Linked DNA regions of Homo sapiens: region 1 is linked to region 2. Evidence: fine-mapped expression QTL. A gene starts in region 2. The other region holds a variant in brackets. All regions are shown on one strand. Distances are between the middles of the regions. Region 1 overlaps GPR20 (G protein-coupled receptor 20). Region 2 holds the start of PTP4A3 (protein tyrosine phosphatase 4A3).

Evidence for each region.
Region 1: its variant is fine-mapped to the expression of PTP4A3 in whole blood (TOPMed, PIP above 0.99).

What each region holds. Positions count from the first base shown.
Region 1 is chr8:141,361,100-141,364,099 of GRCh38, reverse strand. All of the region lies in intron 1 of GPR20 (G protein-coupled receptor 20), which reads left to right. Among named protein-coding and RNA genes, the nearest start is that of GPR20, 4.7 kb to the left of the region's middle. The variant C/T (reference allele first, on the strand shown) is at 1,708.
Region 2 is chr8:141,390,667-141,393,166 of GRCh38, reverse strand. PTP4A3 (protein tyrosine phosphatase 4A3) reads right to left here and starts at 1,146. Exons shown (of 6, transcript NM_032611.3): 1 at 1,083-1,146. It overlaps ASTILCS (antisense transcript of PTP4A3, liver carcinoma survival associated), which reads left to right and starts at 546. Exons shown (of 2, transcript NR_187488.1): 1 at 546-759; 2 at 2,016-2,500. RefSeq lists an enhancer at 1,454-2,074.

The DNA.
Region 1 (3,000 bases), 29 kb after region 2:
AGTGGACCTGGGTCTGATTCCCAGCCCCACCAGCTCCATGCTGGGTAACCGTGAGGACACCACTCACCCCTCTGGGCCTCCGGTTCCTCATCTGTAAAACCTGGGATTGCTGTGTGGATGCAAAGCGCCCTTAGCAGGTGCTCAGAGCCCCTCTGTGGGGAAAAGGCTGGGCCCGTCCTCCACACGTCCACAGACAGCACACAGGGTCCTGAGCCAGACCCCCAGGCAGGCTCAACAGCCACCCTGGGCCATCTGCTGCCCTGGGGCCGGGGCCACTCTGCTGCCTGGTCTCACATGTGGCAGGACAGAGGCAGACAGGCTGCTGGGCAGCCAAGAGAGAACTCCCAGGTTGGTGGGGTGGGTTTGAGAGGAGCCCAGGGAAGAGAGGACATAGCCCTCCCCACCCACCGGCCAAGGACGGAGGCCGGCATGACCCTGGTGCCCCGCTGGAGGCCTCTGGGCAGGTGCCAGCACCCCAAGCCCAGGGGTCTGGCCTTCCATGGCCGGGTGCCCAGCAGAAATTCAACAAGCTGTGGGTGAGGGCAGGGAGGCAGCAGCCCCCATCAGTGCTCTGGGCATGGACTAGTGGTGTGGCCATTGGGATGGATGGAGCAGGAACCCCCAGGGAGGGGACAGGGTCAAATAGCTTCCATGCTCGATGCTCGCTCCCACCCCTTGGAAGTTCCCAGGACCGTGAGTTTCACAAAGGCTCTGAGAAGTCCTGCACTGAGCACACGTGTTGGCCCTGGCCTCTCCCCACGTGTGAGCGGGCTGGTCCACACAGGGCCCCATCCAGGTGCCAAAACCAGGAGCCTCCCGTGCTCTTATATCGCACGCCTCCCATGTTGGGGGTGTCTGCAGTATTTCTCACTTAGTCCAGCCACCCTGCCTGATTTCATTCATTCATTCAACAAATATGGTTCCCAAAGTCCCAGGTGAGGGAACTGAGGCTCCCAGTGATGAAATGATTTGCCCGAGGCCTCGAAGGTGGCGGGTGGTAGAGCTGGCCTGCAAACCAAAGACCATTGCTATCAAGAGTGGTGATGGGGCCGGGCGCAGTAGCTCACGCCTGTAATCCCAGTAGTTTGGGAGGCCAAGGTGGGCAAACCACTTGAGGCCAGGAGTTTGAGACTACCTTGGCCAACATGGTGAAACCCCATCTGTACCAAAAATACAAAAATTACCCAGGTGTGGCACGGGCACCTGTAATCCCAGCTACTCCAGAGGCTGAGGCATGAGACTCACTTGAACCCAGGAAGTGGAGGTTGCAGTGAGCCGACATTTCGCCACAGCACTCCGTCTCAAAAAAAAAAAAGAAAGAAAGAAAGAGTGGTGATGGGAGATAGAGGGTGGGAAGGAATGTAAGTGTGGACACAATGGTCAGAGTGATTAGGACGGGCTTCCGGGAGGAGGTGTCAGCCTTGCTCGGCTGGGAGGACTCATGGGTAGTGACGATGGGGCTGGGGGTGGAAGCCAATTCCAGACCAGTACCAAGACACTGGGTAGGCAGGTTTCAGAGGGGGCCAGGCCAGGTGGCATTCACCCTGAATGCCAGGTTGAGAAACCAGGCCACACCTTGCCAGCCCTGATGAGGCTTGCTCAGGGCGTTCATTCAGACAAGGGGGAAGACGGGTGCTGCTCTCTGCCAGGCCAATCTGGGTGCTGGGCTGGTGGAACAGATGGGAGCTCAGCCCCCACCCACAGCCC[C/T]GCCTCAAGATGCTCAGAGTCCAACAGGGAAGCCTGCAGCACATAGCAGCGCCGTGGGATGAACCCTGGGATTGAGGAAGCGCAGGGTGCCCTGGGAGGATGCACCAGAGAGAGGCAGCCCAGGGAGGAAGAAGGCTTCCTTAAGGAGGCAAGTCCAGGGGGAAGTCCTAAAAATGGGCATGAATAAGCCGAAAGGGAGAGAGCAGGAACAGCTTGGGGTTGGGCCTGGAGGGCGCATGGAGTGTTTAGGCCCCGCTAGTAGTTTCGCCTGCAGAAGCATCAGTCAGGTGCAGTGACTGGAGAGGCACATCCCCAGCCCTGCCCAGCAGTCCAGGCCTCAGGCCCCTCCCAGGGAGAACCCCCAACCCAGCGGCAGCCCCGCCTAGGACGGCTGTTTTGTGATGTGATACCTACGGGGAGGGCATGAGGGACATCCTCCTTCACCCTCTGCCCCCTCCCCTGGAGGAGCTCAGCGAAGCCTTGAAAGGCCGGGGCTCTGGGAGGTGTGCCCACCTGGAGGGGTGGGGGCTCTGGGGGTCTGCCCACCCGGAAGGGTGGGCCAGAAACAGAAAAGAAAGAGATGCCGCAGCACACCTGCCCCTGCCCCGCCACACCTGCAGCAGGTGCTCTGTTCAGCCAAGGCCCAAGACAGCCATGCAGGGCAGCGTGTCCGGCCATTCCCACTTCACAGGAGGAGACACTGAGGCTCAGAGAGGACCCACCCAGGTCAGAGCCCTCCCTCCAGGCTGGCGGGGGCAGTGAGTAGTGTGGGAGCTGGACCTGGTCTAGGCTGCACACCCAGGTTGGAGCAGAGCTCGCCCCCTCGCCCTCTGGGTCCCCCGCTGGCAGCTTGTCCCATACTTTCATCACTTCCTGTGTCTGAGCCCCTACTCTGGGCTGGCACATCAGGACAAGAACCCCCAGGGGAGATTCTATTTTGCCCACTCTACAGATGAGGAAACTGAGGCTCAGAGACTGTAAGGCCACATAGTCCGTTCAGAGATGGAGCCAGGCTTTGGCAGGGCCATCCAGGCCAGAGCCAGGGCTCCATGGCCACACTCCAGGTCCCTACCCTGCTGGGTCTCCACTCACTGACTCTCAGCCCTGGAGAGCAGGCCCTCGTTCCCTCTGTTCTGTCCCCAAGGAAGTACCTGTGTGTGGGTGGGGAGCAGAGCTGGCCTGGGCCAGTGGAAAAGAGAAACCTCCCAGCCCTGGCACAGCCTCCAGGCCCTGAGCCCCAACACCATGTCAGCACGATCAGGACACGGTGCCAGTCCCTGCCCATGAGACTCT
Region 2 (2,500 bases):
GGGAGGATTGCAGGAACTCAGTGAAGCACGGCTCTGCACAGGGCTGCCAGGCGGCTTCTGTCTGTGCAAGGCCACAGGCACCCTGTGTTCAGTGACCTCCTCTGGTCTGCAGCCGAGGACACTGCTCCAACCTGGGAGCAGGGCCCCCAGGGTCCACAGACTAGGTGGATGCCCAACACCCACCATCGTGTGCGGGGCACACCCCAGAGCCCGCAGGCAGAGAGAGGGGGTGCAGCACGTGCCTTTCTGTCTTGGCTGAGGGTGCCCGGGCACACACTGTGACCAGCTAGCCTGGACCTCACGCTGCCCTTGGAGCCGCTATCACAGAGGGCCAGGGAAGCCTCCCTCATAAAGGGCTTCCCTCCGGGAACCGGCAGGGTGAAACTGCTCTGCCCACTTGGAGCTAAGCATGCCACCACCCCACCCCTGGGCCACCAGCTGCCCAGGGGCGTGTCAGGAGTCACCCGTTTAATCCCTGAGGCACGTGGATCAAGGCTGCTGACCTGATTCTACCGGGGTGTGCTTGGAGGGCTGAGGCGCCGCCCGAGTCCCAACACTGGTATGGTCTGAGGCGGACTCCACCCGGCCTGAGACCTGACGCTCTGCTTTCCCCTGACCTCCACTGACATCTACGACCCGCCCTGGAGGCACGGAAGGCTGTGGGGTTCCAGCCCCCCAAACTGTGCAGCTGAGGAAAATGAGCCGTGAATGGGGGCAGAGCCAGATCCTGGGCGGGACCCTGCGCAGGATGAACTCAGGGTAGGAGGTCTCCCGCGCACCCAGAAACGGGAGCGGGTCACCCCCTTCCAGCCAGGGGTGTTCTGTGGCTCGCCTGGGGAAACAGCGGCCTCCTGAGGCTCGGCCCCGGCACGTGGCAGCCTCCAGGCCCACGTTCCCGCCGGATCGGCCGCCAGGCGCAGGGTCCCGGGACGCGCGGGCAGGGGGAAGGCGGCGGCCCTCCCGGCTGCGCGGCCCCGAAGCCGTGCCCGGAGCGGGCGGCGGGCTCGCGCGCGGACGGCCCCCCACGCGCCTCCACAAAGCGCCGCGCGCCCCCGCCCCGAGCGGGCGCGGAGGAGACTGACCTGGCGGTCCGGGCGGCGCCGGCACGACGGGTGGAGGGCTCGGGACGCGCGCGCCCTCGCGCACAGGCGCGGCCGCGGCTCCACCGGCTTAGGGCGCGCGCCGGACCCGCTGGGTCACGTGGGGGCACGGCCCAATGGGAGCGCTCCCCACGCCGCGGCCGCGCGCCCGCCGCCCCCGAGGCCGCCCCTGGGCTGGGAGGAGGCGGCTCCGGTCGCGCGGGCGGCCTCGGGGACTGACCTTGGCTCCTGTGCCTGCCGGGCGCCTAGGCCAGGTCGGCCTGGGGCAGGCGGGCGTCGGAGGGGCAGTTTTGAAGCCCGAGCGAAGAGGCAGAGGGCGGGATGCGGACGAAGCCAGGGAGTTCACGAAACTTCTGGAGTTCTCAGTTTCCCCCTAAGTCGACTGGGGCTAGGTCCCGTGCCGCCAGGCGGGCTGGCTGAGGGGATGGGCTGGGGCGACAAGACGGCAGCCGCCTGGCCCGGGTACTTGGGGTCAGACCGGCTTCGAGGCCCCCGGACCGCCGTGTTATCAGGACGGGTAGGGAGCCCACGGGACGCGTGGTGCTCAGAAGAGCGGGGAGGCGTGTGGACGGGGCCTGCCCGAGCTGCACCACCGCCTGCCTCCAGGCTGCGAGGCCCGCCCAGGCGAAGGCGGCATCTCAGCCTCTAGCCCTTGGGGACCTTGAGGACGTCCTCTTATGGGTCAGCCGTTCCTAGGGAGGCTTGTGGCTCCAGTTACTGGAAAAACCAGTGCTGGTTCACGCAGGAGGCCCCAGTACAGGGGGAAACAGAGGCAAGCTGGGGTCTCCCAGGCGGCCTCACCCACCCAGCCCTGTTCCATGCCAGTCCCTGGACCCTTGGCCCAGTCAGATGTTCAACTGCTCCAGCCCTGCCTCCACTTCCCTGAAAGATGCTTTTCCACCCATCCACCCTCAGCAGCCAGAGGGACCCCGGGAAGATGGGAGTGAGAGCTGCCTTCGTCTGCAAAAGTCTCCAGACACCACCTCACTGGTGAAGGCCAGAGACCCTAAACTGTCCCAAGACCACCTGACTGGGCTGCCTCCCTGCCACCTGGCTGCCAGCCTCTCTCAGAGCGCCTGCAAGCTATTCCTCCAACCCAGAGTTTCCTTCCCAGCTAAAGGCCTTTGCACCTGCTGTTCCTTCTGCCTGGAAGTTCACCGCAGACTATCCCAGGGCCTCCATCCTTCCCATTGCATGGTCCCCATCAGCTGCCGCCGCCTCTGAGAGCTCAGTCTCCACTGGCCATCCTGTCTCTCAGCCCACTGCACTCTCCACTCTGCCAGAAAGTCCCCCAATCAGTGACAACACAGGTCACGGTCCACACCTCACCTGGTTTGTCCCCAGTGCCCAGCATCTGGCACCGAGCAGGTGCGTGCAAATCCTGGACAGGTGGGCAAGCT